7 linked regions of the Homo sapiens genome follow. The protein of the gene in region 1 purifies or fractionates together with the protein of each later gene. This does not show direct contact. Each region holds a gene or a part of one and is shown in the gene's direction. Other genes may lie near its edges.

Region 1 (3,617 bases):
CCTCTCCTCCTGTCTTTCTCCTCCTTTCTGCGTATTATGAGGTGCCAAGACCTGATATAGGGGATGGAGGTAAAAAGAGATGGGGTGAGAAGCTGCAGCCCCTCCTCCCACCTCCTCCTCCTTCTGGCAGCCCTAGTGGGTGGAGAGGGCACTCGGCTCGACCAGCTGCAGTACGACGTGAGGAAGGGTTCTGTGGTCAACGTGAATCCCACCAACACCCGGGCCCACAGTGAGACCCCTGAGATCCGGAAGTACAAGAAGCGATTCAACTCCGAGATCCTCTGTGCAGCCCTTTGGGGTAAGCCAGGGCAGGGACAGCTGAGGAGGCTCTGGCGTGGCTCTTGTGCTCCTGGTTAGGTGAGGGCCTGGCTGAGCCTCTGACCTGCCCAAGGGCTCCTGTTGCAGGGGTCAACCTGCTGGTGGGCACGGAGAACGGGCTGATGTTGCTGGACCGAAGTGGGCAGGGCAAGGTGTATGGACTCATTGGGCGGCGACGCTTCCAGCAGATGGATGTGCTGGAGGGGCTCAACCTGCTCATCACCATCTCAGGTACAGGTGTGGTGAGTGGGGGAGGGAGGAGGGGCTCAGCTCCTTGGCGCTGTCACCATCTTCTGCCTGGGAGGAGGGCAGGCACTGGAAGGTGGGGCCACACTTTCTCACCCCTTGTGGTATGCTGACAGAGGAGGCCAGGGCGGTGGCATTCGGGCCTCAGATGAGAATGGGGGCGGGTGTGTATGTCTGTCCGTCCCTCAGGGAAAAGGAACAAACTGCGGGTGTATTACCTGTCCTGGCTCCGGAACAAGATTCTGCACAATGACCCAGAAGTGGAGAAGAAGCAGGGCTGGACCACCGTGGGGGACATGGAGGGCTGCGGGCACTACCGTGTTGGTGAGGATGTCCCAACAGAGTGGCCAGCGCATACTTGTTCATGAAGAGAGAAATGGATCTGGGAGCCAGGGACTTGGGGCCTGGGTGGGGCAGTGTAGTGACAGACCACGGGGAGGCGCCCGTGGCGCAAGAAGGGAAGTCTCAGCATCCCTCTTCTCTCCCGCCCCCAGTGAAATACGAGCGGATTAAGTTCCTGGTCATCGCCCTCAAGAGCTCCGTGGAGGTGTATGCCTGGGCCCCCAAACCCTACCACAAATTCATGGCCTTCAAGGTAATCCCAGCCTCGGTCCCTAACACCATCTGGAGTCCCAGCGCCTCTCCCCGTGCCCCTGAGCCCTCCTCTCCTCCGGTTCTCTGCAGTCCTTTGCCGACCTCCCCCACCGCCCTCTGCTGGTCGACCTGACAGTAGAGGAGGGGCAGCGGCTCAAGGTCATCTATGGCTCCAGTGCTGGCTTCCATGCTGTGGATGTCGACTCGGGGAACAGCTATGACATCTACATCCCTGTGCACGTGAGCTTGGCGGGGCTGCTGGGGGAGTGGGATGGCCCAGTCTGGGCACCAGACACGGAGACTCTAGTCCCCCTCCTTCTCCCCAGATCCAGAGCCAGATCACGCCCCATGCCATCATCTTCCTCCCCAACACCGACGGCATGGAGATGCTGCTGTGCTACGAGGACGAGGGTGTCTACGTCAACACGTACGGGCGCATCATTAAGGATGTGGTGCTGCAGTGGGGGGAGATGCCTACTTCTGTGGGTGAGTGAGCTGCCGCCCTCCCAGCCACATGCCCCGAGGTGGCCCCGGGGTGCAGCCTGCTCAGCCCCTCACCTGTTCCCCACAGCCTACATCTGCTCCAACCAGATAATGGGCTGGGGTGAGAAAGCCATTGAGATCCGCTCTGTGGAGACGGGCCACCTCGACGGGGTCTTCATGCACAAACGAGCTCAGAGGCTCAAGTTCCTGTGTGAGCGGAATGACAAGGTGGGAGGCTCCTTCCCTCTGAAAGCCCTGCTGTCCCGGCTGCCATGACCCTAGGCCCCTGGGCAGAGTTCTGGGGAGAGGATGGTGGTGGTGGCTTCCTGAAAGCGGGCCCCTCTGGGAGCTCAGAGGGCAGTCAGCCACTACCACTGCCCTGCGCTCCCTTCAGATTCCGAGGACTTCCCAGCTGGCCCCCAGGGGGCGAGTGGTGCACCCTCTCCCCTAACATCCCAGCCTGCCTTTCCTCCGGGTGAGGGGCACTGTGAGTCTCCTCCTGCAGTCTCTGTGTCTCCCTCAACTCTTCTGCCACCCCTTCTTCCCTTCTTTCCCTCTCCCAGTTGAGACACCCCCCCAACCTCAGCCCTTGGTGACTTCTTCTCCTGCCCCACCCAGGTGTTTTTTGCCTCAGTCCGCTCTGGGGGCAGCAGCCAAGTTTACTTCATGACTCTGAACCGTAACTGCATCATGAACTGGTGACGGGGCCCTGGGCTGGGGCTGTCCCACACTGGACCCAGCTCTCCCCCTGCAGCCAGGCTTCCCGGGCCGCCCCTCTTTCCCCTCCCTGGGCTTTTGCTTTTACTGGTTTGATTTCACTGGAGCCTGCTGGGAACGTGACCTCTGACCCCTGATGCTTTCGTGATCACGTGACCATCCTCTTCCCCAACATGTCCTCTTCCCAAAACTGTGCCTGTCCCCAGCTTCTGGGGAGGGACACAGCTTCCCCTTCCCAGGAATTGAGTGGGCCTAGCCCCTCCCCCCTTTTCTCCATTTGAGAGGAGAGTGCTTGGGGCTTGAACCCCTTACCCCACTGCTGCTGACTGGGCAGGGCCCTGGACCCCTTTATTTGCACGTCAGGGGAGCCGGCTCCCCCCTTGAATGTACCAGACCCTGGGGGGGGTCACTGGGCCCTAGATTTTTGGGGGGTCACCAGCCACTCCAGGGGCAGGGACCATTTCTTCATTTTCTGAAAGCACTTTAATGATTCCCCTTCCCCCAAACTCCAGGGAATGGAGGGGGGACCCCGCCAGCCAAAACATTCCCCCCATTCCCGACCCCCCTCTCCTCTTCTAGCCCATGCCCTTCCCCGGTGGAGGGAGGGAGCAGGGAGCCCTCACTCTCCACGCCCCTTGCTTGCATCTGTATATAGTGTGAGCAGCAAGTAACCCTTCTCCCTCCCCCCCCACCCCTCCTCAATGTAGTGGCCTTGGATATCCTGTTTGTTAATAAAGACAATTCAACCAGCTCCCACCATGCAGGCCGCATGTCCTTGCTTTCTGTCAGTACTGTAGACTAGGCAGAGAGAGCCTCCAGGGTGGGGAAGAAAGGGGCAGGGTGGGCTGGGATCTGCAATGAGTGAGCCTCATGGGGTGGGATGGGCAGTGCTGGGCCAAGAAAACCTAGAAGAAATGACTGTGGAAGGGTCAGGGCAGCCTCAGCCTTAAACCTGTGGGCCTGAGGGCCACCAGCACTGAAGGTGTTTGGTTCCCACCCGCTCCAGCAGAGCCAGACCAGGGAAGAAGAGGGTTTCCTGGCTACAGCCTCCCTGTGTGCAAGTCCTGCAAAGGGGTCTCCTGTTTGGCTATGAAATGAATATAGATAGATAGCTCACAAGCTGGCAGCCACCAGAGTCCCGTGGGGCTGAGCCTTAGAAAGGCTGGGAGGTCAGCAAGGCTGAATGAAGGGCAGTCCTTGCTTTCTGGAAGACTGGCACCTGAGAGCCTATGTGAACCCTTTCCTCCTGCTGACCCCTG
Region 2 (4,258 bases), on another chromosome or scaffold:
ATGGGTGATTACCTTTTTTTTTTTTTTTTTTTTTTTTTGAGATGGAGTCTTGCTCTGTCACCCAGGCTGGAGTGCAGTGGCGTGATCTTGAGTCACCACAGCTTCCGCCTCCTGGGTTCAAGCAATTCTCCTGCCTCAGCCTCCTGAGTAGCTGGGATTACAGGCGCACGCCACCATGCCCGGCTATTTTTTGTATTTTTAGTAGAGACGGGGTTTCATCATGTTGGCCAGGCTGGTCTCGAACTCCTGACCTCAAGTGATCCTTCCGCCTCGGCCTCCCAAAGTGGTAGGGTTACTGGTGTAAGCCACCATGCCCAGTCTGATGATTACTTTTTAATGGTGCCCATATTTTGATTTAGAAATTCAAAACTCTATTTGGAATGAGAATAATAATTTATAATTTCTTTTTAAAATAATACTTATGGGTCGATCATGGTGGCTCACGCCTGTAATCCCAGCACTTTGGGAGTCTGAAGTAGGCGGATCACGAGATCAAGAGATTGAGACCATCCTGGCCAACATGGTGAAACCCTGTCTCTACAAAAAATACAAAAATTAGCTGGGTGTGGTGGTGCGTGCCTGTAGTCCCAGCTACTCGGGAGGCTGAGGCAGGAGAATCACTTGAACCCAGGAGGTGGAGGTTGCAGTGAGCTGAGATCGCACCACTGCACTCCAGCCTGGCGACAGAGTGGTCTCAAAATAATAATAATAATATTAATAATAATAATTATGGAGCAGTAAATTAGCTACTAATGCTAGATATTCTCTTTTGGTAAAAATCTGATTTACTTTTTGGTGTCTGGAGTTTTTTTTTCATTGTAACTTTTTGAGAGATATTTAACCATCATAAAAAAGTGATAGACTTGTCTCCCCAATTAAGTAATACATTAAAGGTTTATGGGAGCTGTATTTGAGGAATCTGTGATTGGAAAAAACGTAATTTATAGTTCAATTAAATAAAATCTTAATATTCATTTAAAAAACATTAAACAGCCAGGCGCAGTGGGTCAGGACTATAATCCTAAGAATAGGGTGGCTAAGGTGAGAGGCTGAGGTGGGATGATTGCTTACACCCAGGAGTTTGAGGCTGTAGTGAGCTATGATTGTGCCACTGCACACAAGCATGGGCTGCAGAGTGAGACCCTGTCTGTAAAAAAGAAAAGTTGAATAAAATTTATTTCCTTATTTCACTGATAATTACATTGCAAAAGTTTTTTCTTCCCCTCTAGTGTGAGCTTTGGGTCTTTATTAAGAATTGAAGTTAATCATAATAGTATTTTGTATGTGCTTTAACCGTGAATTTATTTTTATAGGATTTCTATAATTGGCCTGATGAATCCTTTGATGAAATGGACAGTACACTAGCTGTTCAACAGGTAATAAAAATAGTTTCTTTTCACCCTGTGTCTTTTGGAGTACGATGTGTAAGTGCCCATTGGGTGGCCTTTGTCTGTTGGTCACTGTGCAGCAGTCTGCTTCCCAATAAAGCGTGCTCTTTCACAAAACAAAACAAAATAGTTCCTTTTACAACTCCAATAACCTAAGCATTTTACCTCTGACATAGTTAAGTATTCTTATATCTTTTCGCATAGAGAAGATTCCACTGAATTAATGGAATGCCTATTTAAAAGTTTAGTCAACCCTCATTTTGTTTTAAGATGGCATATTAAGCTGGGCACTGTGGCTGCCAGCACTTTGGGAGGCCAATCACTTGAGGCCAGGAGTTCAAGACCAGCCTGAGCGACATAACAAGACCCTGTTTCTACGAAAAGATAAATTAGCCAGGCATGGTGGCACACACCTGTAGTCCCAGTAGCTAGGGAGTCTGAGGTGGGGAGATCACTTGATCCTACTTCAAGGGTCTAATGAGCTATGATTGTGCCACTGTACTTCAACCTGGGTGACAGAGTGAGATCTTGTATCTTAAAAAAATAAAAATAGCCCAGGTGTGGTGGCTCACAGCTGTAATCCCAGCATTTTGGGAAGCCGAGGCAGGTGGATCACTAGGTCAGGATATCAAGACCATCCTGGCCAACATGGTGAAACCCTGTCTCTACTAAAAACATAAAAAATTAGCCAGACATGGTGGCATGTGCCTGTAGTCCCAGCTACTCGGGAGGGCTAAGGCAGGAGAATCGTTTAAACCCAAGAGGCGGAGGTTGCAGTGAGCCAAGATCATGCCACTGCACTCCAGCCTGGCCAAAAGCAAGACTCTGTCTCAAAAAAAAAAAAAAAAACAAAAACAAAAACAAAAATACAATTTCATTAAGGGGCTAATAAAAAGATAATATAAATTGGAGCGTACTAGTATATTGGATTAGGCATTGGTTAAATTTTTTTTGTTTTGAATTTTTAGTAGAGACAGGGTTTTGCGATGCTGCCCACCTTGAACTCCTGGGCTCAAGCAGTCCACCCACCATGGCCTCCCAAAGTGCTGGGATTGCAAGTATGAGTCACTGCACCTGTCTTTTTTTTTTTTAGACGGGGTCTCACCCTGTTGCCCAGGCTGGAGTGCAGTGGCTCAAGCATGGCAAAATGTAGCCTCAACTTCCTGGGCTCAGGTGATTGTTCTACCTCAGCCTCCCAAGTAGCTGGGACTATAGGCGCACACTGCCACATCTGGCTGATTTTTTGTAGAGATGGGGTTTCACCATGTTGCCCTGGCTGATGATAACATTTTTAAAGGGAAAATATACCATAAATCGAGGCTGTTTGGCTTCATTTTGATAGCCAGATAATAAAAGTAGATAGCTGGCCGGGTGCGGTGGCTCACGCCTGTAATCCCAGCACATTGGGAGGCCAAGGCGAGCGGATCACCAGGTCAGGAGATCGAGACCATCCTGGCTAACATGGTGAAACCCCATCTCTTACTAAAAATATAAAAAAATTAGCCGGGCGTGGTGGTGGGTGCCTGTAGTCCCAGCTACTCGGGGGCTGAGGCAGGAGAATGATGTGAACCTGGGAGGCAGTGAGCCTGCAGTGAGCCGAGATCGTGCCACTGCACTCCAGCTTGGGGGACAGAGCAAGACTCCATCTCAAAAAAAAAAAAAAGTAGACAGCTATTCGGATTTGTTATGTTATTTGAAGATCTTAGAAAATAAAAGAGACATATAGTTGAATTATTTGAGCATTAAAAACCACCCATCTGGGTGTGGGGGCTCACACCTGTAATCTTAGTACTTTGGGAGGCCGAGGAGGGAGGATCACTTTGAGGTTGGGAGTTTGAAACCAGCCTGGACAATATAGTGAGACCCTGTCTCTGTAAAAAATAAAAAGGTTGGGCTAGGTGGCGTGCACCTGTAGTCCTAGCTACTTAGGAGGCTGAGGTGGGAGGAAAGGGTTTATGGTGAGCTGTGATTGCACCACTGCACTCCAGGCTGGTGACAGAGACCCTATCTCAAAAAAAAAAAAAAAAAAGAAAAAGTGCTGTTCAATCAGCAAATATTTATTGGCTTCTCACGATATAGCTAGCAATGAGTTAGGCCTTGTGGAAGATAAAGGAATATAAACCTAGATCTAGCTCTATGCCTAGAAATTGGTTAAATTTTGAAGAAAAATGTACAGATGGTTATCTCTTTAAAAATAGGGGGAAGTGTCCTGTTTGTTGAATTTGTTCATTTATTCTCACAGGTTTTTTGGATGTGAAATCATTAGGGTTTTCTACATACGAGACCCATGTCATATAATTTTACTTCTCCAATCTAGATCTGTTTTCTTTCTTTTTCTTGCCTAATTGCTCTGGCTAGACCTTCCAGTACTACTTTGAATAAAAGTGGTGAAAAAGGGCATCTTTGTCTTCTTCCTGATCTTAGAGGAGAGCTTTTAGTTTTTCACTGTTGAGTATGATGTTCACTATGGATTTTTCATATATGGTCTTTATTATATTGAAGTTGTTTCCTTTATTCGTAGGTCATTCAGTGCTTTTTAGATCATAAAATGGTGTTAAATTTTGTCAAATGCTTTTTCTGCACCTATTGAGATGATCATGTGTTTCTTTTTCTTACTTTTTTTATTTTTTTATTTTTTTGAGACAGTCTCGCTCTGTCACCAGGCTGGAGTGCAGTGGCGTGACCTCAACTCACTGCAGCCTCTGCCACCTGGGTTCAAGCGATTGTCCTGCCTCAGCCTCCTGAATAGCTGGGATTACAGGCGCCCGCCCCTGCGCCTGGTTAATTTTTGTAGTTTTAGTTAGAGACAGGATTTCACCATCTTGGCCAGGCCGGTCTTGAACTCCAGACCTCGTGATCTACCTGCCTTG
Region 3 (4,258 bases), on another chromosome or scaffold:
TCGGCCTCCCAAAGTGCTGGGATTACAGGCGTGAGCCACTGCGCCCTGCGAGAGGAACACATCTTGATGCCAGGCCAGCTAGTGTCTGCACAGAGATTTTGGCTGGTTGGAGATATTTGCATATGATACGCTTCTCCAGAGTTGCCACTAGTGTAAAGCAAGGCTGGCCAGGAGGTGCTTCTTGGGGTGCTGGGCACGGGACTTTGGAGGAAGAGGCTGAGGCATCTCAGGAGCCATCAGCTGCACAGAGGCTGTCCTTAGTGCTGGGAGAGCCAGCTTGAGGTATGGCTGGCTCCTTGGGCCTTTAACAGCTCTGCTGGGCTCAGAGGCTCCCTTTCTCTTCCTACTGCTATGAAGGCAAGAGCTGGTGTGGTCTGGGCTAAGCGGGAAGCTGAGGGTCCCTGCCCTGCCCTGCCCTCTGGCCTTGCCCTTCTCTCACCTGAAAGTGTCTGGAGCCTTGGCCCCAGAGCTAGTCCTTTGCCTGTCCCAGACCAGGGTGCTGTGAGGTCACACTCTTGCCCAGGCTGGGTTCCACCCGCCATCTTCCTTCTCTCCCTCACTCCAAGTAGGGCTTAAGAACAACTTCAACCCTGGAAAATCACTCTTTCCTCTTCCCCTCCCCCACTGCAATTCTTCAAGAAGTATTGGCAGGGCAGCAGGACCAGCTGCACTCTTCCTGGCTAGAGGAGAACTTTAACTCCTTATGGGTTAAAGGAAAGAGGAGTTATCTTTTTAGGAGCTGTTGAGAGGTCTGGGCATCCAGGATGCTTTTCCTAAAGTAGCTGGGGAATTTAACCCTTCATGCTCAGGTAGGGAATAAGCACTGTTTTCTGGGGCACTTGCCGAATGGAAAATGGACAGATTCTGTGTCCCTAATAGTTGCAGGCAGGGCTCAAGAGTAAATGGCTAGGAGGGTTTAACCTTTGGGTGCTGTTAAAGTTGCACTGGGAGACTCTCCCACATTTTCCATTCTGTGACAGACTCTAACATTCCGTGCTTCCATTTCCTGTCCTCGTCCCTCACAGGAGCCTTCCTTCCGACCTGGCCTTCAACGGGGACCTGGCTAAGGCAGCCAGCTCGGAGCTACCTGCTGATGTGAGTTATCCTCCAGTTATGAATCAGAATCACGTATTTTAGAGCTGGAAGGGTCATATGAGATCATCTTTTCTACTCCTTGTAGTTCAGATGGGGAAACTGAGGCCCATGGGGAGAGTGACTCACTGGAGGGCTGGCCCTGGGATTTTTCGACTCCTGGGCCAGTGCTCTTGATCACCAAAGTGGCTAGGTGTGGTTAAGGCCATGAGGCCATTCATCATAAACAGTAATGATAGTATCCACAACAACTGCCATTGATTAAGTCCCTACTATGTGCTGGGCCTGTCCTGGGAACGTTAACCAACTCAATCCTTGTGATAACTCTGGCTAGTAGACCTGGTTAGTCCCATGTGAGAGATGAGAGCACCTGTACTCACAAAGGGTAAGTAACTTAGGCTGAGGCAGCAGCTACTGTGTCTGCCTCCCATGCTTTCCCTGGCTGGGCTGCCTTTTCTGAGTTCAGAAGAGGGGTGAGTCCTTTTGCTGAGATTTTCCCATCATACTCCCGTTCTTGAAGATGGTCAGCCTGCTTTCTTGAGTAAACAAGGTACAGGATGGCCCTTTTTGCTCATACAGCCCTTGCTAGCTGGAGATCTGACTTGATTCATTTGTCCATCCAGCAAGCAGTGACTGAGCGCCTGTTAGGAGCTGGATGTTGGAGATAGCTGTGAAGGTAGAGTAGAGAGTGCAGGGACGAGTGTGGTCAGGGAAGGTGTCACTGTGAAGGGCAGAGGCTGAGCTGTGTGCATGTCTGGAGAGCAGCATTCTTGGTAGAGGGCACAGCAAGTACAAAGGCATTGGTGCTTTCCTGGCAAGGAGGCCAGGATGTCTGCCTGGCAGTGAGAGAGGAGTTAGGTGGTAGTGAGGACCAACGGGTTGGGGGGTTGGATTGTGTCAAGTCTCGAAGGCCTCTAGAAAGACTTTGGCTTCAGTGAGAGCAACAGGCCATTTGAAGGGTTTGCAGGAGAGGCATGGGATGCTGCTGTCTTAGTTGTGAAGAGTCACCTGGCCCACTGGATTAAGAATCAGTTGCAGGGAGGTAAGATCAGCAGCATGGACCAGTCAGGGGGCTGTTGGAATAGTCCAAGTGAGAGATGATGACGGCTTGGACCCTGGAGGTAGCCTACGGTGGAGATGGGGAGAAGTGGTTGGTTCTGGATAGAATTTGAAGGCATGGTGGAAAGGACTTTCAGATAGATAGAGAGCACAGAATCAAGGGTGACCCCACGGCTTTTGGCCTGAGCAACCGGAAGGATGAGTTTATGGTTGCCGAGACGGGGACTTCTAAGGGTGAAGCAGGATCGGGGGAGATGGGAGGAGTTTGCTTTGTGGATTTGTTGAATTTGAGATGGTTTTCAGACATCCATGTGGAAACGTCAAGCGGATGGTTGGGTAGTCGAGTCTGGCCTTCAAGGGAAGTGAGCAAATTTGAAAGGAACACTTGGGAATTGTCAGAGTAGGAATGCTTGTGAAGACTGGCTGAGATTACTGAGAGTGGGGATGGTGCAGGAGGGGAGGGCCCAGAGGCACAGCCAAGGAGACTGGGAGGACAGTGAGAGAGTCCACCAAGTGGAGACAGCCTCCAGGACTGGGGGAGGGCGCCATCAGCTGTCAGATGCCACTGACAGGTCAAGTAAGATGAGCACAGAGAATTGGATTCAGCTCCAGGGAGGTCATCCGTGACCTTGACGAGAGTAGTTAGGTGGCAAGGTAAAGGAGAAAGCCTGTTTGGAGTGGTTTCAAGAGAGAAGGGGACAAGAAGAACTGTGGATATTAATAGTGAATATAGACAGGGCTTTCAAGAAAATGGATGGTAGCTAGTGAGTGATGTGGGGTCAAGAGTGGTTTTTTGGTTTGCTTTTTTGGCTTTTCAAGACAGAAGAAATTAGAGCAGTTTGTGTGCTGATGGAAATGATCCAGTAGAGAGGGAAAAAAAAATCGATGCAGGAGAGAGAGGAGGGATTGACCTCAGCCCCAAGCGAGGACAGTGCCTGATAGCAGAAGGGGAGGCAGAGTGCTTGGGCTCCCATGCAGGAAGTAGGTGGTGTGTGTGTGTGTGGCGGTGGGGGGGTTGTCGGGGGTTCTCTGCTGGTGGCCTCTGTGTTCTCAGGGAACAGGAAGCAAGGCCATCAGCTGAGAGAGGATTGGGGGAGGTGTGGAGGTCTGACGGGAGAAGATGCTAAAACATTGCCTGGGAGAGTCATGGAGTGAATGGCAGGGGGAGTGCCGTGGGATTCTGGGCAGCTCTAGGGCCGGCTTGAGGTCAGCAGTGAATCTGGAGTGAGACCAGCTGTCACGATTGTGTGTTTTTATCCAGCCACATGCAGCTACTCAGGTGCTGGGCTAGGATTGGCCCAGCTGTATTGGAGAGCTGTATTTAAACAGGTTAAACAGTATGATGAAGCAGATGAGGGAGTTGAGTGTTGAGTAAAAAGTGACGTTAATGGTGATAAGAAGAGAGGTGAGGGTATGAGGGGAGTGGGGGACAATGAGAAAGAATTAGGGTTAAGGGGCTGTGCTATGAGAGGGGCTGAAAATAAGGGCGTTGGGGAAATAGAGTGAGCCGGTCAGATAGGCGGTGGGGGTGGGCAAGTGGGATACTTGGGATTGAGATGATGCAGAGGTTGCAGCCACTGGTAAGGATGAGGTCTAGGGTGTGACCTTGAGAGGATGGGTCGCACAGTCACTGAGGAAGAGGAGGTCAACGAACCAGAGGCTGGAAGGGTCGCATCTGGCTATGGAGATGACTGTAAGCTATCACAACAATGATGGAGAGGGTTGCAGTGATGCAGCGGTTATGGTTTTCAAGGAATGATGGGTGCGTAAGGGTCAATAACAAGAAAGAATTGTGGGTGCTGTAGTTTAAGGGCACGAGCTTTGACATTAGAACGTTGCAGAGGGGAGTGAGCATGGAGGGAACAGAAGGGACCTTGAGAAGCAAGCAGGACCCTTTATTTTGCCCAGGCCTAGTAGGTGATGATGTGGGAGAATTAACGACATGGGAGAGGGCGGCCAGGGAAGTGTGACCTCTGCAGAGGGCAAAGGTCAGATGGAGCCAGAGTCACTTCATTGTCTGGGGACAGGTGGAGTGCCAGGTGCTTGGTGCCTTGTTTGTCCCCCTCTTCTCTCCACGTCCTCCCCACTCTCTGCCGCCATCATCCCA
Region 4 (4,258 bases), on another chromosome or scaffold:
ATATTTAAATAAAACAAGCTTTTAAACCAAAATTGTTAATAATTAATCCAATATCAAATTAAATTTTTAAGCACCTACGCATGACATGGATTACTGTTGATTTCCCTTGTATTATTTTGTATGTTGAGTTATTAATCAGTAAATGAAAATTTAGTTCTTCATTGTTACCCTGGATACTAATTTTTTGAAGTACGCTTTCATAGCATTAAAAAAAAGAAACCTTTTGGTGTATTATCATGAGGAAAGTTAACTTTATAATCTGTAGCAAAATATCATAAATATCAATTGCAATTCTCCGGATTATTTTCATTACATAGTTGGAATGGTAACAAAACCAGCAAATGAACAATCCCAGGACTTCTCAATACACAATGAAGATTTTCCAGCATTACCAGGCTCCAGCTATAAAGATCCAACATCAAGTAATGATGACAGTAAATCTGTAAGTAACTGAGAAGTGTGTATGTGAGTGATGTAGTTTTTCCCTTCAGATTTCTCTTATATTAACAATTACTTACTAAATACTATTACAAAACTGTTTTATCTTGATATCTGTAATAACCTAACTTCTGAAGAATGTGGAAAAGCTTTATAACTTAGAAGATAGCCTATTTTTTTCCTATTTCATATAGGTTTGCAAATTTCTGTTGAACTTCTCAGAGTTAATTTAGACTTTTATTGTAGTCCCTGTCAGCTGGATCCCATGAAGTTTGATAATATAGCCTTCTAAGGAGCTGTGTTTTTCTTGAGTAAGTTTTCTCCTTGAAGAATTTATACACATTTTTATACCTGTGTTGATTCAACCAACTCAGCTTCTTCTTTCTGACTTAACAAATATGTTTATTTCTTCCACATTTCACTGAAAATAGCTTTTCTCTGTGTGTGATGGGAGTTTATATATTATTAAAATAATTGATAAAGAAGATCGGTAAGAATTAAAATAAGTACAAAGTTTTAAAGCTTGTATGTCTAACTTATCTTCAAGGTAGCTTTGGTGATTTTAGGTAATATACTATATTTAGTTTCTCTTTTACATGAAAGCATTGAGGAGTGTAACTTCAAGTGTATCCCAAAGCATAAAGACCTGAGAAAGAGATAGATTTTTTTTTTTCTGTGACTGAAGATCTGAGATAAATAAGATATTTTCCCTTGATTTCTTTTTCTTTAAATACTCAAATGTGGATGATATAGGATTTATTTGTATACCATGGAACAATGATGGAAACAATTTTCTATAGAACTTGAAAAACAGGTAATAATTTAACTACCAATTTAAATGTAATAAAGAATAAATAGCAAGGTATTAATATGTGAACTTGAATTTGTATACTTAACAAATTTTAATGTCACATTTAATTTTTTTCATGCTAGAATTTGAATACATCTGGCAAGACAACTTCAAGTACAGATGGACCCAAATTCCCTGGAGATAAAAGTTCAACAACACAAAATAATAACCAGCAGAAAAAAGGGATCCAGGTGTTACCTGATGGTGGGACTCTAGAAATCTATGTCAAAGATATTATAGAATGCTTTTTTTTCTATTTTTTAACTTTTTCTTGAAAATAAAAGCAACTGTGTTTTTCCTACCCAGGTCGGGTTACTAACATTCCTCAAGGGATGGTGACGGACCAATTTGGAATGATTGGCCTGTTAACATTTATCAGGGCAGCAGAGACAGACCCAGGAATGGTACATCTTGCATTAGGAAGTGACTTAACAACATTAGGCCTCAATCTGAACTCTCCTGAGTAAGTTTTTTCTGTTTTTCCATGTCTGTATATAATACCTCTTCAGACTTCCAGTTTTTAATATCATGTCATCAAATTATCTCACCTACTGCTACTCATTGTTAACCTGCTGATTCTCTGGGTCATTCCCATTCATGTTAGCTCTTAGATCACTGTCACTCTGCAGTATTCCTTTTATAATTTGGCATTTTATGTGTGTGTGTGTGTGTGTGTGTGTGTGTGTGTGTGCATGTGCATGTATATATGTGTGTGTGTATATATATATATATACACACACACACACACACACACCTTCCAGAATCCTGAAATCTCAGCTCCTTGAATTTCTTTCCTCCAGGAATTTTTGTCCTGTAGTATACTTCAGCCACTCCTTTAGTTATCCCTTTGACCTAGTCATTGTTCGTAACTGCAGTCTCTCAATTTTAAAATCTGAGCTCGCATGCTTTCCGACTTCCACTTTCTATTTTCTATTTCTCTTCTTCTAGTACTGTGATTCCTGTAATCATTTCACTCCATTGGGACCTTCAATCTATTGATTCTTCGGTATTTTAACTGTTCTTCCAGATCCCCGTCTCTTTTCCCCTGTGATCAACTCCCTTCTTACCCATGAAATTCTGTGGTCAGTCATAATTGTTCATTTACATATCCCATGACTACTTGCCATTTTCTCATGTTGTTATACTTGCATGGCCAAAGCTACAGTACTGATTGTTTCTGCCTATTTCATTCCTGACCTGTGCTACTGAGCTCTGCTAGAGAAAAACACATGATATCACTGCCTGGTCTTCCTTTATTTTCATGCCCAGGAGCCTCAAAAGTAGGCTCTTAATTCTACCAGTGATAATTATACCTTGCATGCTTAGTCCATTTACTCTTTTGCTCTCTTATGCAACTATCGTACACTTCTGCATGCCCCTAATACCTTTTCTCCTTATTCTTACTATCAAATGATGATCTTGCTTTTCACTTTTACTGTACTAAGAAAGATGGAAGCAATTAGAAGAGCACATTTAGCACAGTCTAGCCAACAAATCTGACTACCTACAGCCACCTACACCTATGTTATTCTTGTTTTCCACCCTATTACCATAATTGACCCATGCGTTCTACTTACAACACATTTTCACACTTTGTTGGGTCATTTTCATCAACATAGAAATACATTGTTACTTCTCTCATCTTAGAAGAAAATCTTCCTTTGATCCAACCTCCTCCGTAAGTTACTTTCCCATTTCTTTATTTCCCTTTGAAGCGAAACTTTTCAAAGAGTCATCTCCATTTCTCCGACTTGGTCTTCTCCCATTCTCTGGTAAGCCCATTTCAGTCAGGATTTTGTCCCTGCCACTTCACTAAAGCTGCTTTTATCAAGGTCACCAAATGACCTTCATGTTATTAAATTCAGTGGTCACTTGGAGGAACTCTTGCTCCTTGATACACATTCTTGTACTTGAATTTGAGAGCACCATTTTTACCTCATCTTCACTGGTTGGTCTTTTTCAGTTTCCTTTGCTGGTACCTCCTCCTTTTCTTCTTGACCTCAGTGTCATTCCTCTTCTCTGCATTTACATCCTTGATGATCTTTTTCTAGTCTTATTGTTTTAAATACCATATATATTGAGGAATCCCAAACATATGTTTCCATTCCACACTTCTGAGTTTGAGATTTCTACATTCAATTGCCAATTAAATATTTCTTGAATGATCACCCCCCAACTTATTCTGTCTACAGCCTTTCCAATCTCAGTTAGTGGTAACTCTGTACTTCCAGAAACTTGGCATTATTCTTAACTCCTCTTTCTTTTATACCCCATAATCAGGCTTTTCCCAAAATATATACAGAATCTAACCAAAGCTCACTACTTTTAACTGCTACCACCCTTGTTTGAATCATTCTCTCTTGCCTGAATACTCCATTAGCCAGTCACTGGGGGTCCCTGATTGTCCTTATACCCCTTCCCGTACAATCTCTTCATATAACAGCCAAGACAATCCTTTTTTAATACATTACTCCTCTGCTCAACACCCAGTAAATGTTTGTGGTTTCATTATGATTAAAAACCCCAAATCTTTTTTTTTTTTTTTTTTTTTTTGAGACAGAGTATTGCTCTTGTCGCCCAGGCTGGAGTGCAGTGATGCAATCTCGGGTCATTACAACCTCCACCTCCCAGGTCCAAGCGATTCTCCTGAGTAGCTGGGATTGCAGGCATGTGCCACCATGCCCAGCTAATTTTTGTATTTTTAGTAGAGACGGGATTTCACCATGTTGGCCAGGCTGGTCTCTTAACTCCTCACTTTTCAAGTGGTCTGCCCACCTTGGCCTTCCAGAGTATTGGAATTATAGGTGTGAGCCACCGCGCTTGACCAGAAACCCCAAATCTTCACAGGCCTGCAAGGTCTTACATGATTATTGTTTGTCCCCTAACCCCACCTCAACAGCTTTTCCCTTTGTTCACTGTATTCCAGCTTCACTGGCCACCTTGTTATATCTCAGGCATGTCAGTCATGTC
Region 5 (4,258 bases), on another chromosome or scaffold:
AATGCAACTAGGCTACTGTTATAAAATGCTGATGATCATTTTATATGATCTTTAGAGAAGGTGTTGGGCAAGCTCTTGATGTAACTAATTTAGGGATTTTGACATTTCTGGTTTCTATTTCTTTATATTTTGTTTTTGTTTTTAATGTGAGGAGTTGTTGTTTCCATCATAGGTGAATTCAGAGTCTTTTCTTAAATCTAATTTTAGCTACAGATCCAGTAATGGGAAAATAGTAATTTATAAAAACAAACTTAAAATAATACATATGGAAAAAACTACTCATTTTGTCTTATTGCTTAAATTTAGGAACTAATAGTAATTACCACTTACTAGAAGACAACTATGGTGCCAGGCATTGTGCTTGGAACCTTTTTTTTTTTCTTTTTTTTTCCTTGAGACAGAGTCTCACTCTGTCTCCCAGGCTGGAGTGCAGTGGCATGATCTCGGCTCACTGCAACCTCCGCCTCCTGGGGTCAAGCGAGTCTCCTGCCTCAGCCTCCCAAGTAGCTGGGACTATAGGCGCACACCACCATTCCCCGGCCAATTTTTTGTATTTTTAGTAGAGACAGAATATTACCATGTTGGCCAGGCTGGTCTCGAACTCCTGACCTCAAGTGATCTGCCTACCTTGGCTCCCAAGGCGCTGGGATTACAGGTGTGAGCCACAGTGCCCAATCTGTTACATTAAATATATATTACTTCAAAAAATATATGTAACTGTTACCTAAATTAATCATTTGAGAATAAGGCAGCATCATTATTCTTTAACTTGGTAGCAAGTATACGCTACCTAGTAATGAATTTTATAAAATTTGCCTAAACCAGAAATGTGTAGGAAATGAAAGTACTACTTAAACATTTTTTCCAAAATTGATTTTAGCCGAAGATATATGGGTATACTTGAATCATGTATAACTCTAAGTCTAGATATTTATAAGTATTAAATCTGAATTTTTAACCAAAGATTATTGTGACATATGAGATACAGTAATTTGGCATATGTATTAAGTTTAATTGATGTTATTGCCTTTGCTCTGTAAAGGGGATTTGTTTGATGTCCCAGTCAAAAAATTTTAAATACATCTTGTTCCCTTTTAAGATTTCCCTAGTGGCACAGTTTCCTTACAGTTAAATAATTTTGCATTTTTTCCCTCTCATAATTTACCATTTACTTCACTCACCTTAAAAAAAATCACTAAAGTAACAAAATCATTCAAAACAAAATGAATGAAAAATAAAATAGTGTCTGTTAATTTTTTCAGATCTCATTTCCACTATTGAGATATATTCCTGTTTTACTTTAGAAGTATTTTCTAAAATACACATAGCAACTCCTTTTTTTTTTTTTAATTTTATGCATTTAGTGGTGATTTTGCTTCGTTTTTGGTCTGTTTTGCCAAATATGCATAGTACAACTTGCTAAAATTTTTGTAATTAATGTACATTTAAAGTGCAGGTTTTGCAATTTAAGGCAAAGCCACGTTAGCAATGTGGACCCTTTTAAATGTTTCAAACCAATGACTTAACGGAAAAAGCCAGTCAAGGCACACTCTACACAAAAACCAACTTAGAACTCTCTATGTGTGTTTGTTTATGTGTTATGTGTGTGTTTTAAAGAAAGAATATAGGTCAGTGATCTGTTTCTTGATGCTGGTAGGAGGGCGAGGGGAGAGATTTGATAAGTGTGAACTTCATTACAGTTTTTGAAGTATCGATCTTCCTGGAATTTGTTATTTAAAGAGGTGTGAGTTTGACTTCAAGCTAAGAAGGCAGCTTTGGAGTATACAGTCTCCTTATTTTCAGTGGCAGTCCCCAACTTCCTTCTTTACTTTTGAAGTCCATGTCCTACCTCATTTTATAAAGAACAAATGTCTGTTTTCTAGGAGTGGAACTTCAACATTACAATCTTCTAGACTATTGCTGCTAAAGACTTGAGACCTACCATGTTGCCACTGGTATAAATGGAATCTGTTACCTGGACTAAGTTCTTGGGAAAAAGAGTTCAATATGCGAGCTACAGGTTTCCTTCATCATAAGTGTCCATCAAAAGGAAGATTAGTTACAAAAGTCTGAAAAAGACCTTGTATTTTATAGACCCGTTATACTAGTATTGTTATCTTACTTGATGAAATCTCTTAGGCCTCCTAAATTTCCATCATTAAATTAAAAACTAGGGCAGGCATAGTAGCTCATGCCTGTAATTCCAGCACTTTGGGAGCCCAAGGCAGGAGGATCACTTGAGCCCAGGAATTCAAGACCAGCCTGGGCAACATAGCAAACTCTGTCTCTATTAGAAAAAAAAAGAAGATATTAAAACTACTTTTTTTAGGCCGGGCGCGGTGGCTCACACCTGTAATCCCAGCACTTTGGGAGGCCGAGACTGGTGGATCACGAGGTCAGGAGATCGAGACCATCCTGGCTAACACGGTGAAACCCTGTCTCTACTAAAAATACAAAAAAATTAGCTGGGCGTGGTGGCGGGCGCCTGTAGTCCCAGCTATTCAGGAGGTTGAGGCAGGAGAATGGCGTGAACCTGGGAGGCAGAGCTTGCAGTGAGCCGAGATCGCGCCACTGCACTCCAGCCAGGGCGACAGAGCAAGACTTCAAAAAAAAAAAAAACCAAAAAAACTACTTGTTTAAATAATTACATTTTTCTTTGAATTACTAATGACATTTTTATATTATGGGTAATTATATTACCATTAATAAAATGAATAGGATAGAAATTAATTCCCTCTGCAGGGAAATAAGGGCAAACAGATGAGTAGCTGCTGTGATTACCATATGCCACAGTGATGGGTAATATGGAAAGCAGAGGTAGTAGTGTAAAAGAATTTTTGCACATATATGTGTAAATAGTGATTAAGCAGAATAGCTTGCAATAGGTACATAAATATGTCATAAAATATATGTGTGTATATAGAGAAAAAGGACAGAAATGTGGTCATATGATTAATTAGAAATGAGTATAATACTAATTTTTTGTTAAGTACAATTAAGCCAAAACTCGAGTAAAACTAATGTCCAGACACTTCCCTTCACATGCTCCTAAATTGGTCTGGCTGATCAGAGATAGTCTTGCAAAATCATTTGTTACGTTAAAGTTATTTTATTGGGCTTTTGAGATTTGTGTCAGTGAATGTTTGTATAATTGTGAGTGGGAGGAACTGTGGCATTTTGTTCTGACTTCTCTTAGAAACAAATTCCCTGAGCTTAAAGTAAAAATATTTCTTTGTCTAGAGAAAAATGCTTTGAGTAAATATTATATAATGACTTTTATATAATTATCCTTAAACATAAGTTTAAATTATTGATTTTATAGTTTTTAGCTGCTTCTGGTATTGCCAATAACTGCATACTAATAATTGGTAGGAAAAGATCAAAAGATCAATGCTACAGATTATTCAGATTCAATAAGTGTCATCATTGAAAGATTAAATACTACTTAATATCTCTATATATTTTCTGTCAGGTGCTTTCAGATTCATTTTAGATCAAGTAACTGAATCAGAGCTGCATTTTAGAGCCCTATTTGAGTCAGATTATATAGCTTATTTTGATAGGATAAAATAATAAAATAACAAGATATTCTAAGTACAGTTGAATTTTATTTTGCCATAGTATATATATGAATTGTGTCTTCTCAGAATTATTTCCAGTAGTTTAGTGATGACTGTCAAGTTTCATTACACCTGTTGTGTTTCCTGTAGCATATTTATATCATTTTTCATGGGAATTTTTTTAAAATTGATAATCAGCTTGATTTTTTGTATAATGTGTCCCTTTTAAATTTGCTCATGAATTTTAAGTGTGTTTTGATATATTGAGTTTTATATTATGATTTGAGTATTTCTCCCTTGTTATCTTAATGTTAAAATTTTGCTTTCAAAGCATATTTGAAATGATATTGAAGGTTGTTGCTTAAACTATGACTGTTACAACAAAATATTTAGATAATAGTCATTCAATTATGGCAGAGTTTAATTGGTCAGTAGTATGTATAGAAAGGAAAACGCATTTTAAATAATTGGAACTGTTAATATTAACATGAAAAGCTGTAATAATGCACATGATATAGTTGAGAAAACTAAGTGAAGCTCAACCTGAGTTTAGTTTGAAATTGAAATGGCAAATCTGATCAGAAATTAAAGCTCTGTGGTCAAGATTACTTGCTTCATTTTAGAGTGTCATGGTAACTAGAATGGGACATTAAAATAAAAGTCATAGTCAAAGCTTTAAAGCTGGAAGACAGGCTGGG
Region 6 (4,131 bases), on another chromosome or scaffold:
ATTGGACACAATGATGTCTATCCTACACTGTAGGATAGATTTCTCATACAGCACTGAAAATGACATCAAATACCATTAAATGAAAGTACATGGCACAGTGATAACATGATAAATACTTGTTTACTTCTTTCAGACTATAATCGCACAAACTGATCACATCCCTCAGTCAGACTGTAAACTGCATGAGGCAGGCTGCATCTGCCTTGGGGACTGTCTGCCTAGGCAAGCACTAGGTCCCTAATGCTGTCTTGCGAATTATAATTGCTAAGTTTAGGGATAATGTATTAAGTGTACTACATTATTTATGCATTATGAATATTCGTCTCAAATATTTATTATATTGTATTTTAAATAATGTGGTTATTGTAAATGTAACCAGCTGCATCAATCTGTGAGCTGACAGCCATTCTGTGGAAAAGGAATTCAGAAACTTTGACCTTAGGTAGGGATACAACTAGTTATACATCCACTCCCCTCTCTGAGTTATTTGGTCCTGCCTAAGACTTGCTGCCACCAAGATCTGCATTCCTGTGTTCACAAGGCAGACATTCCTTGCATCCTCTGTACTCTCCATTGTTTCAACTTCACTGCAAACACCATTCCCCACAATATAATGAGGCCAAGGAAAGAAAAAAGTCGCCTCAGCTGGCAAGCATAGGGTGGAAAAACCTGCCACACAAATTTGCAATTATTTGACTTCCGCCTGGAAGGCAGGTCGGCTGGGTTTATGTCCCCCAAAGTTAGTATCCTCTTCTGTACAAAATGTGGTTGAGAGAAGGGTGATCTCCAGGTGTTTCATCTTTGCACCCTTGCTTCCAGCACCACGCCCACAGGCGCTTCCAGAAAAAAGAAAAAAAAAAAGGGAGCAAGGAAGCCAGGTTTTTCAACAACGAATTCATTCTAATGCAGACACCAAAGCCCACTTCATTTATTAACATTCTGGATAAAATCCCAATCGATTAGGCCACCAGAGCCCTCCATTCCTAAACTCCGCGTACAGTCAGGTAAAAGCACGAAGCACTAGTCACGGTCCTGCCCAGACTTTTCACGCAGAGGTGGAAAGTTGCAGACCCCGAGCCGGGAGGGGCGCGAGCCCACCCTGAAGCCCAGGACCCAGGAGGGCGCTTCCTCCCGGAAGTGACGCGAGCTCAATCCCGGCCTTGCTCTTCCCAAACAAAAGGGATCTTGGGGCCCCGGGAGGAGCCTGAATGACTTTGGAGAAGCCCCGCCTCCAGCCGGCGCGGATTGGGGCCGAGGCTGGAGAAGCAAGGAGGCGATTGGCGCTGGTGAATGCCAATGCCCCCGCCGGGCGGCTGAGGGGGCGGAGCCTCAGCCGCTGTGGATGGGGAGTGGAGGCGGAGGGGAGCGGAGCCCGGAGCGTCGTGGAAAGGTAGGAGCAACTATCCCTGGGGCTTGGTGATGGCTGGGAGGCCGGGTTCTCAAGAGCAAAGCAAGGATAGGGGCACCGGTAGCCTCCCGCCGCCGTCTCAACGGCCTCTGGGCCCATCCCCTGAGGGGGCGGGGCCGTCTCCTCCACCTCCCGGTATTCCCCGAGGAGGCGGCTCCTCATCCTCCGAGGGTCCTCACAGCTACTTTTTGTCCCTCGTCGATTCCCAGCTCCTCAGAAGGGGCTTCCCTCTGACACCCCTCATTCAAAGGCACCTCCCACCCCGCACCTCAGCCTTGGCGGAGAGGACTCACAGGTACCGATTCTCTAGGCTGCCGCCCCCAACCCCATTTCGTACCCCCGGAAGGCCAAACATCCCTCCCTACACCTGTCCCTGCTCGCCAGGGTGGGACTGGAGCTGCTTTCCTCCGTAAGATAAAATTGGTGTTTCCCAAAAAGGAGGGATGGGGCGAAGCAAAAATCAAAGACCGACCTAGACAGCCAGCTTTACGGAGGAAGCGGCTTCTCCCACTTAAGTTCTTCCCATCCCCCATTCTCTGATGCTCAGTCTTCCTCCCGCAGCCCCTCGCATCCTCTGGCCTCTTGTGAGGAGTCGAGAGCTCTCCTGTTTTGGGACTGTTTTGGACTGTGAAAGAGGGAGAACTAGGACCTCCTCTCCTTCACCCTTTGTACCTTCCTTCTACTTTCTGTTCCTTCTGGGAGCACCCAGCCTCTAAGGGTTTCTTAGGTTTGAATTGCGTTTCATTTTTCCTTTTCCACCCTATTTCCTCCCTGAGAACTTGATGAAAAGCCATCTTATATTTCACAGTGAGGTGGGTGTGTTGGATATCTGCAGAGCTGGCTTTGTGTGGGCAGGAATGCAGTATATGTTGCTTGACAGTCAATGAATAACACCATGTTTTCAAATGAAACAGTATACATAAGTAAATAAGTAGCAGTGGATTAGGAATGAGTATATCCCAGTCTAGGGTGGGCTGGTCCATTGCTCAGGGAGACTGCAGTTAACCTTGAAGGTATACTGCAGGTTGAAACAAAAGACAGGAAGTGTTTGAAGAAAATTCAGGGTCAGTCATCTAGGTTTATGATTAATCTAGTCCTATGTCCTTTGGTAACTCTCTAACCCCTTTTTTATAGTGTCCTCCCCGCCCCCAGGAAACATTCATGTATATTTTGATTGGTTTTACGATCATCTATCAAAATTTAGAGGATGAAAAGTAAGAACAATTTTTAAATCTCAGAGATAAGAGTAAATAAAGGCAAGGTATTCTAGCTATTCATGTTTACCAAAAAGTGCCTCTTCTAGTGTGCTCCTAAAGGTTTTGTCAAGTGGTCTTCATTTCAGCAGGTGCAAAGTGTTGATTTTGACCTCATGTTAATGTCGTTGAATCCCCAGTAATCATCTATTGCTAGCGCTTTTATATATTAAAATTTACCATGTTTTTAGCATAGTTTCTTTTGCTTCCAATCTCAAGTCTACCTCCCCTCTGTCAGCTATAGCCAAAGCTGATGGCAATAAAATGCAAGGAGTTGGAATCACGGAGGGTGATTGTAATGACTGTTGTCTTTTACCTTCTTGATTAGACTTTCTGAAGGTAGACTTCCTAAAGATAATTACTTTTGAATAGTTAGGTTTGAAGTTTTCAGAGCCACTCGGTGCTCACAGGTCTTCTCAGTGATTGTTTCCAAATCTCCAGTAAGAAAGTACAAAGAAGAAACTGGAGGGTGTCTCTAGCAAACGCAATGTGTGCTGCAATAGAAGGGTAAGACGTGAGCTCCCAGCAATAACAGCAGAAAAAACTAAAAGCAGAACAGAAAATCCCAAAAAGATAAGTTGTATTATATCAACAGAGAACAGAAAATAAACTAAGGTAAGAGACTAAGCAAACCAAAGTTGTGATTGCCGAGGTTTAATAGGAAAAAGCAAATAATATTCTTTTATTATTTAGCACAGTAAGCAAGATCTGTTTGTTACACTTTTGGGTCTTGAAAATCTTTCCTTTAACCTTTTCAACACCTGTTTGGTCATGCTAGGTGAAGAAAAGCATAGTATGCAGAGGATAGATGTCTGATCTCTCTCCTTGAATTATAAATTCTTTGAGGGCAGATAGTAGTATTTTTTGTTTTTCATCTTTATATCTTTCACAGTTCCTAGTATATAGTATGACTTCATGAGTGTTTGTTTAACTTAGTTTGAGGCTGTCACCTTAGGGTAGACTGAAAGGCAATGTACTGATTAGATTTGGCACAATTTGTTAGTATAAACGGCCTACTTGTTGTCTTCATTTAACTTGATTTTCCCCATCTTCTGTCTTATGAAATTCCAGTGTCTTAAGTGACTAAAATTTTGAATTTCTTATAAAGAAATATCTGTGAGGCAGGGTGTGGTGGCTCATCCCTGTAATCCTTGCTACTTGGGAGGCTGAGGCAGGAGGCTTGCTTGAGCCCAGGTGTTTGAGGTTACAGTGAGCTATGATCATGCCACTGCACTCTCCAGCCTGGGCAGCAGAAAGAGACCCTGTCTCTTAACAAAAAAAAAAAAAAAAAAAGTTAAAAAAATATATATGTAATCTGCTAGTTAGAAAATACTATTTTACTGTCATGAAATTTGAACCAGACTTAAGAACGTAATGAGTGCTAATCATTTTAGGATTTTATTGTTCTAAATATCTGACCTGATAGGAATGAAGTGAATTTAGGAGAGATCACTAGGGACTGATTGCTGA
Region 7 (4,258 bases), on another chromosome or scaffold:
TTCCTTCACTTTAACAATGAGAAAATTGAGGTTTGGAAAGTTAAATGACTTATCCTAGGTCACACAATTCTAGAAAGAGCAAAACTGGATTTTGAAGTCACTTCAGGCTCCCACGCCAGTGTGTGTTCCAATTATATACACATGTAGTTCCTTGCAAATTGAGGTCTTTCCTGTTCTTCAATTTGATAAACAGATTCTTAATCCTGGGTACATGGATACATTGCAGGAACTCTGTGAACTCCTTAAAATTATGTGTAGGTTTTCGTGTTTTTGCAGTTGTGTATTTTTCTGAGTAAAAGATCCACAATTTTCTTTTTTCTTTTCTTTTTTCTTTTTTTTTTTTTTTTTGAGATGAGTCTTGCTCTGTAGCTCAGGCTGGAGTACAGTGGCTCAGGCTGGAGTACAGTGGTGCAATCTCCGCTCACTGCAAGCTCCGCTTCCCGGGTTCACGCCATTCTGCCTCAGCCTCCCAAGTAGCTGGGACTACAGGTGCCTGCCACCACACCTGGCTAATTTTTTTGTAGTTTTAGTAGAGATGGGATTTCACCATGTTAGCCAGGATGGTCTCACACTCCTGACCTTGTGATCCTCCCACCTCGGCCTCCCAAAGTGCTGGGATTACAGGCGTGAGCCACCGTGCCGGACTTCATTTGATTCTTAAAGGGTCTGGGCCTCAAAAAATGTCAACCTCTGCTCTCTTGGTTGGTATCCTGCAATTATTATTAATGCTTCAAATAAGGTAATTTCCAGTAGAGAAGTCATAGATTAATTTGCTTGCCTGTCAGTGAGCAATGTGTGCTACTAGATTGAGTTCCATATCAGCCACAGCCTTAGAAATGTATTAGTAAATTAAAAATTCAAAGAGTTGTAGCATCTGAACTAGGAATCATTAGAGGTGATCGTTACAGAGTGGCATGAGGAGTAAATCTGCCTGTTGTCTGCCCATGGTTTCATCGATTGTTAAATGAGGTTAATAACCACCATGTTGTGATCATTAAATGAAACCATGTTTTTAAAAAAAGGTGGTACAACAGAACTAACTCTTCCCTCACCTGCCGTACCCCTTCTTCTACTGCCCGCCTCCTTTTAAAAAGATGTCAATTACAGATTCTTTTTGTGAAAGATGGGCCTAAATAACTCTTGGGATATGGAAGGAGAGTAAGATACATTTTGAGTTTTGGTGTTTTATTTAGGAATGTCCAAAATATTTTATCAATCATCTGGTTATATAAATTAATATATAACTCAAAATATAAGAATATTTCCTTTTTATTCTCCAAAACAATGAAATTCCTATATGTGTGTTACAAAATTGCTTGTTATATGTCCATGTGTGTGTTGGTGGTTCTCACTAAGTAAATTATGCCCCATCTGATCCATAATGTGACACAGGGAACTATGTGAAACTATTGTACTGACTTCTCTCTGAAAACAATACCTATTAAGTGCTTTGTAATCTCAATAAGTAGAGAATTTCTCCTAACATCAATGCTACTGTTCATAGTACTGAGTGTTCTTTCAGATTTTGTTGAACTACCACCAATAACATTTTACTTTTTGTCTGAGATTTTTATGTATTAACTATATTGTCTAGGTCAAAGAATATAATTTATTAGGAAGTCATTTTTAGGCTGAGCACAGTCGCTTATACCTGCAATTCCAGCACTTTGGGAAGCTAAGGCAGGCAGATCACTTCAGGTCAGGAGTTTGAGATCAGCCTGGCCAACGTGGGAAGGTCCCATCTCTGCTAAAAATACAAAAATTAGCTGGGCATGTGGCATATGCCTGTAGTCCCAGCTACCGGGGAGGCTGAGGCAGAAGAACCGCTTGAACCTGGGAGGCGGAGGTTGCAGTAAGCTGAGATCACACCACTGCACTCCAGCCTGGGAGACAGAGTGAGGCTCCATCTCAAAAAAAAAAAAAAAGTCATCTTTAGATCAGATTTTGTCTTTCAGGCAGATGAGAAGCAGCATTAGCAAAGCGGTTAAAAGTGTGGGCTCTGTTGCTAGAACACCTGGGTACAAATCCTAGCTTGCCATTTAAATTTTACATAACTTCTCTGTGCCTCAGATTTTCCTTATCTATAAAATGAGAGTGCTGGTAAATATAAGTATTTAGGACAGTGCCTGGCAGAGTAAGCACTGTATGTTTTAAGCTCTCATTTTTATTTTTAAAAAATTGTATTCATCCCATGACAGGTGGGTATTCAGTTGGTGTAACTTACTGCTGTTATTAAATTGGGGGTGAAATGCAACAGGGATGATGAAAAGGAGGATCCCCACCCTAGATATTTCCTGGCACCAAACTGCCCTCCTTTTGGCTAGAATGACAGCAGAACCCATAACACCAAGCTAGTGCCCATGGGGGCCACATTACCACCCACCTGACATGGTTCTAGCTCTCTTAGAATCAAAATCACATGGAGGCTGCAGCCCCCACAAATAATCTCACAAATTGGAGTATTGCTAGCAGCAGGTGTCCATGGCTTTAGGAACCCGTGTACGCACCAGGCATTGGCCTTTCAGAGTGCCTACACCACTGCCAGCAGGGCCATCTTCTCTGTGGGCATCAGGCCAGCTCCAGAAAGAGAATATGTAGGGATGGGGCCTGGTGTTCAGGAGGCATGGTATGCAAACCAGTGGTTACCAGGGCAAGATGGGGTACAAGGTGCCAACTGCAAGTCACACACTGGCTCCAGTAGGGATGATGGAGTTTACTGATGGTGGTATCTGTATGACAAGACTTTGGGGAAGGTCAGCTGGAATGGGTACTGATTAATCAGGAAAGGTACTATATTGCCAGACCAGTATCTGTGAGGCCCCCTTTGGTTACTGGATTGTGGGGTCATCCAAGAGACTGGGCAGGAAACCTAACACTAAAATTTTATCCTGTGTTTCTGCTGAGCGTCTAAGGTGATGTAATATTCTAAATAAACACATACCCTATCTTCAGGTAGGAATTACATTTCCAAAAATAGTTTTTAAGTTGAGGGCCTGTTTGTGGCTGCCTAGAAAGGGCAAGTGCCTGAACAACACTGCTTTTGCTGTTGGGAAAGGAGGAAAAAAGCTACCATATTCCTTCTATCATATTGTTGCTTTAAGAGCCTATGATTGATTCCTTGAGGACCATCCCTGAAGGGAGTTACAAAACAGCTTTTAGCAGATTACTGTAAGGCACTTAAAGCTTAAGCTGCATTGTATTTCAGTCTATTTAGCAGAACAACTTGTGGTTCTTTCTGTCAGGCTAGTGAAATAGTAAAAATAAAGCTAAAAACTTACAATGAAGCTTCCATTTTTAAAAGGCCATTATTCAGATTGGGTAGAGTAAATTTGAATCCACTTCAAAGTCTATTTTATGCTTCTGATCTTCAACAAAGGCAGTTCTTTGTGTTCTTTGTCTTTACATCTGTACAATGGGTAGGTCATCATTCTGTCAAGCTAAGATCTTTTGGGAACTTATAAGTACTGTGAGAAACTGTAATATAGTTCAAAAAAGTACGGGAATATGCAACTTCATACCTTCATACCTGGTTAAATTGAGTGAGTTAATTCCTCTGAACATTAGTGATCTCATCTGCAAGTGTAGATAGCCTTCCCCCCCGCCTCCCGCTCCTTCTTTTATTTCTCATGGTTGGGGGCAATTACCTGAGAACATATTGGGCATAGAGATGGAAATCACCAGGAATTTGTTAGCAGTTTAGAGCTTAGGGGTAGCAATTATCATTTTTCTAGTCTCCCATCTTGTTTTCCAGATAAGAATAATTAAGGAACTTAACCAAGGTCACAAACATATTTGATGACTATAGAGAATTATAAAATATTCAAATTTGGGGGGAATATTGTGATTCTTTAGCATAATAATGAAAGCATGCCCTATTAAGTATGTATTTCCTACATGAGTAAGTAATGAATGGTTCTCAAAGGGATGTAGTTAGAGAATATACTGAAGAATCATTAAGAGGGAGAGCTTTTCCAAATTACAGGTTTTCTGCTCAGTTGAGGGGGGATGTCAGAATCACTGGGGAGGGACCAGTATTGGGAAGGCATAATTTTTTTTCCTCTCAAAAACTATTATATGCATATGGTTTTTTAAAAAAAGTTTATGCAAAAGGTTTTAGTGTAAACAATGAAAAGTAAGTCTCCCTGTAAATCCCCAACCTTAGAGGTAACTACAGTTAACAGTTCTTTATGTGTCCTTCTAGAAATGTTATATGTAAATGTGTAAGAATGTATATGTATTTTTTATTTTTATATGTGTG

Evidence for each region.
Region 2: the proteins of MINK1 (region 1) and MOB4 purify together in Homo sapiens (affinity purification with mass spectrometry; 3 studies listed by BioGRID and IntAct, with this or other methods). This does not show direct contact.
Region 3: the proteins of MINK1 (region 1) and TNKS1BP1 purify together in Homo sapiens (affinity purification with mass spectrometry; 2 studies listed by BioGRID and IntAct, with this or other methods). This does not show direct contact.
Region 4: the proteins of MINK1 (region 1) and CNOT2 purify together in Homo sapiens (affinity purification with mass spectrometry; 2 studies listed by BioGRID and IntAct, with this or other methods). This does not show direct contact.
Region 5: the proteins of MINK1 (region 1) and STRN3 purify together in Homo sapiens (affinity purification with mass spectrometry; 3 studies listed by BioGRID and IntAct, with this or other methods). This does not show direct contact.
Region 6: the proteins of MINK1 (region 1) and CTTNBP2NL purify together in Homo sapiens (affinity purification with mass spectrometry; 2 studies listed by BioGRID and IntAct, with this or other methods). This does not show direct contact.
Region 7: the proteins of MINK1 (region 1) and CNOT9 purify together in Homo sapiens (affinity purification with mass spectrometry; 3 studies listed by BioGRID and IntAct, with this or other methods). This does not show direct contact.

The regions. Positions count from the first base shown.
Region 1 is NC_000017.11:4,894,945-4,898,561, forward strand, and holds the end of MINK1 (misshapen-like kinase 1), read left to right. Parts: intron 1-130; coding exon 131-298; intron 299-391; coding exon of another isoform or gene 392-405; coding exon 406-549; exon of another isoform or gene 550-550; intron 551-753; coding exon 754-888; intron 889-1,058; coding exon 1,059-1,159; intron 1,160-1,248; coding exon 1,249-1,398; intron 1,399-1,484; coding exon 1,485-1,644; intron 1,645-1,729; coding exon 1,730-1,869; intron 1,870-2,259; coding exon 2,260-2,343; 3' UTR 2,344-3,117; downstream 3,118-3,617. UniProt on the Homo sapiens protein: Serine/threonine kinase which acts as a negative regulator of Ras-related Rap2-mediated signal transduction to control neuronal structure and AMPA receptor trafficking.
Region 2 is NC_000002.12:197,522,311-197,526,568, forward strand, and holds part of MOB4 (MOB-like protein phocein), read left to right. Parts: intron 1-1,313; coding exon 1,314-1,376; intron 1,377-4,258. Other genes in the region: HSPE1-MOB4 protein, read left to right, coding at 1,314-1,376.
Region 3 is NC_000011.10:57,314,655-57,318,912, reverse strand, and holds part of TNKS1BP1 (182 kDa tankyrase-1-binding protein), read left to right. Parts: intron 1-1,025; coding exon 1,026-1,095; intron 1,096-4,258.
Region 4 is NC_000012.12:70,337,072-70,341,329, forward strand, and holds part of CNOT2 (CCR4-NOT transcription complex subunit 2), read left to right. Parts: intron 1-317; coding exon 318-442; intron 443-684; coding exon of another isoform or gene 685-714; exon of another isoform or gene 715-1,348; intron 1,349-1,371; coding exon 1,372-1,492; intron 1,493-1,594; coding exon 1,595-1,751; intron 1,752-4,258. UniProt on the Homo sapiens protein: Component of the CCR4-NOT complex which is one of the major cellular mRNA deadenylases and is linked to various cellular processes including bulk mRNA degradation, miRNA-mediated repression, translational repression during translational initiation and general transcription regulation.
Region 5 is NC_000014.9:30,914,645-30,918,902, reverse strand, and holds part of STRN3 (striatin-3), read left to right. Parts: intron 1-4,258. UniProt on the Homo sapiens protein: Calmodulin-binding scaffolding protein which is the center of the striatin-interacting phosphatase and kinase (STRIPAK) complexes.
Region 6 is NC_000001.11:112,394,883-112,399,013, forward strand, and holds the start of CTTNBP2NL (CTTNBP2 N-terminal-like protein), read left to right. Parts: upstream 1-1,331; 5' UTR 1,332-1,390; exon of another isoform or gene 1,391-1,703; intron 1,704-4,131. UniProt on the Homo sapiens protein: Regulates lamellipodial actin dynamics in a CTTN-dependent manner. Associates with core striatin-interacting phosphatase and kinase (STRIPAK) complex to form CTTNBP2NL-STRIPAK complexes.
Region 7 is NC_000002.12:218,575,057-218,579,314, forward strand, and holds part of CNOT9 (CCR4-NOT transcription complex subunit 9), read left to right. Parts: intron 1-4,258. UniProt on the Homo sapiens protein: Component of the CCR4-NOT complex which is one of the major cellular mRNA deadenylases and is linked to various cellular processes including bulk mRNA degradation, miRNA-mediated repression, translational repression during translational initiation and general transcription regulation.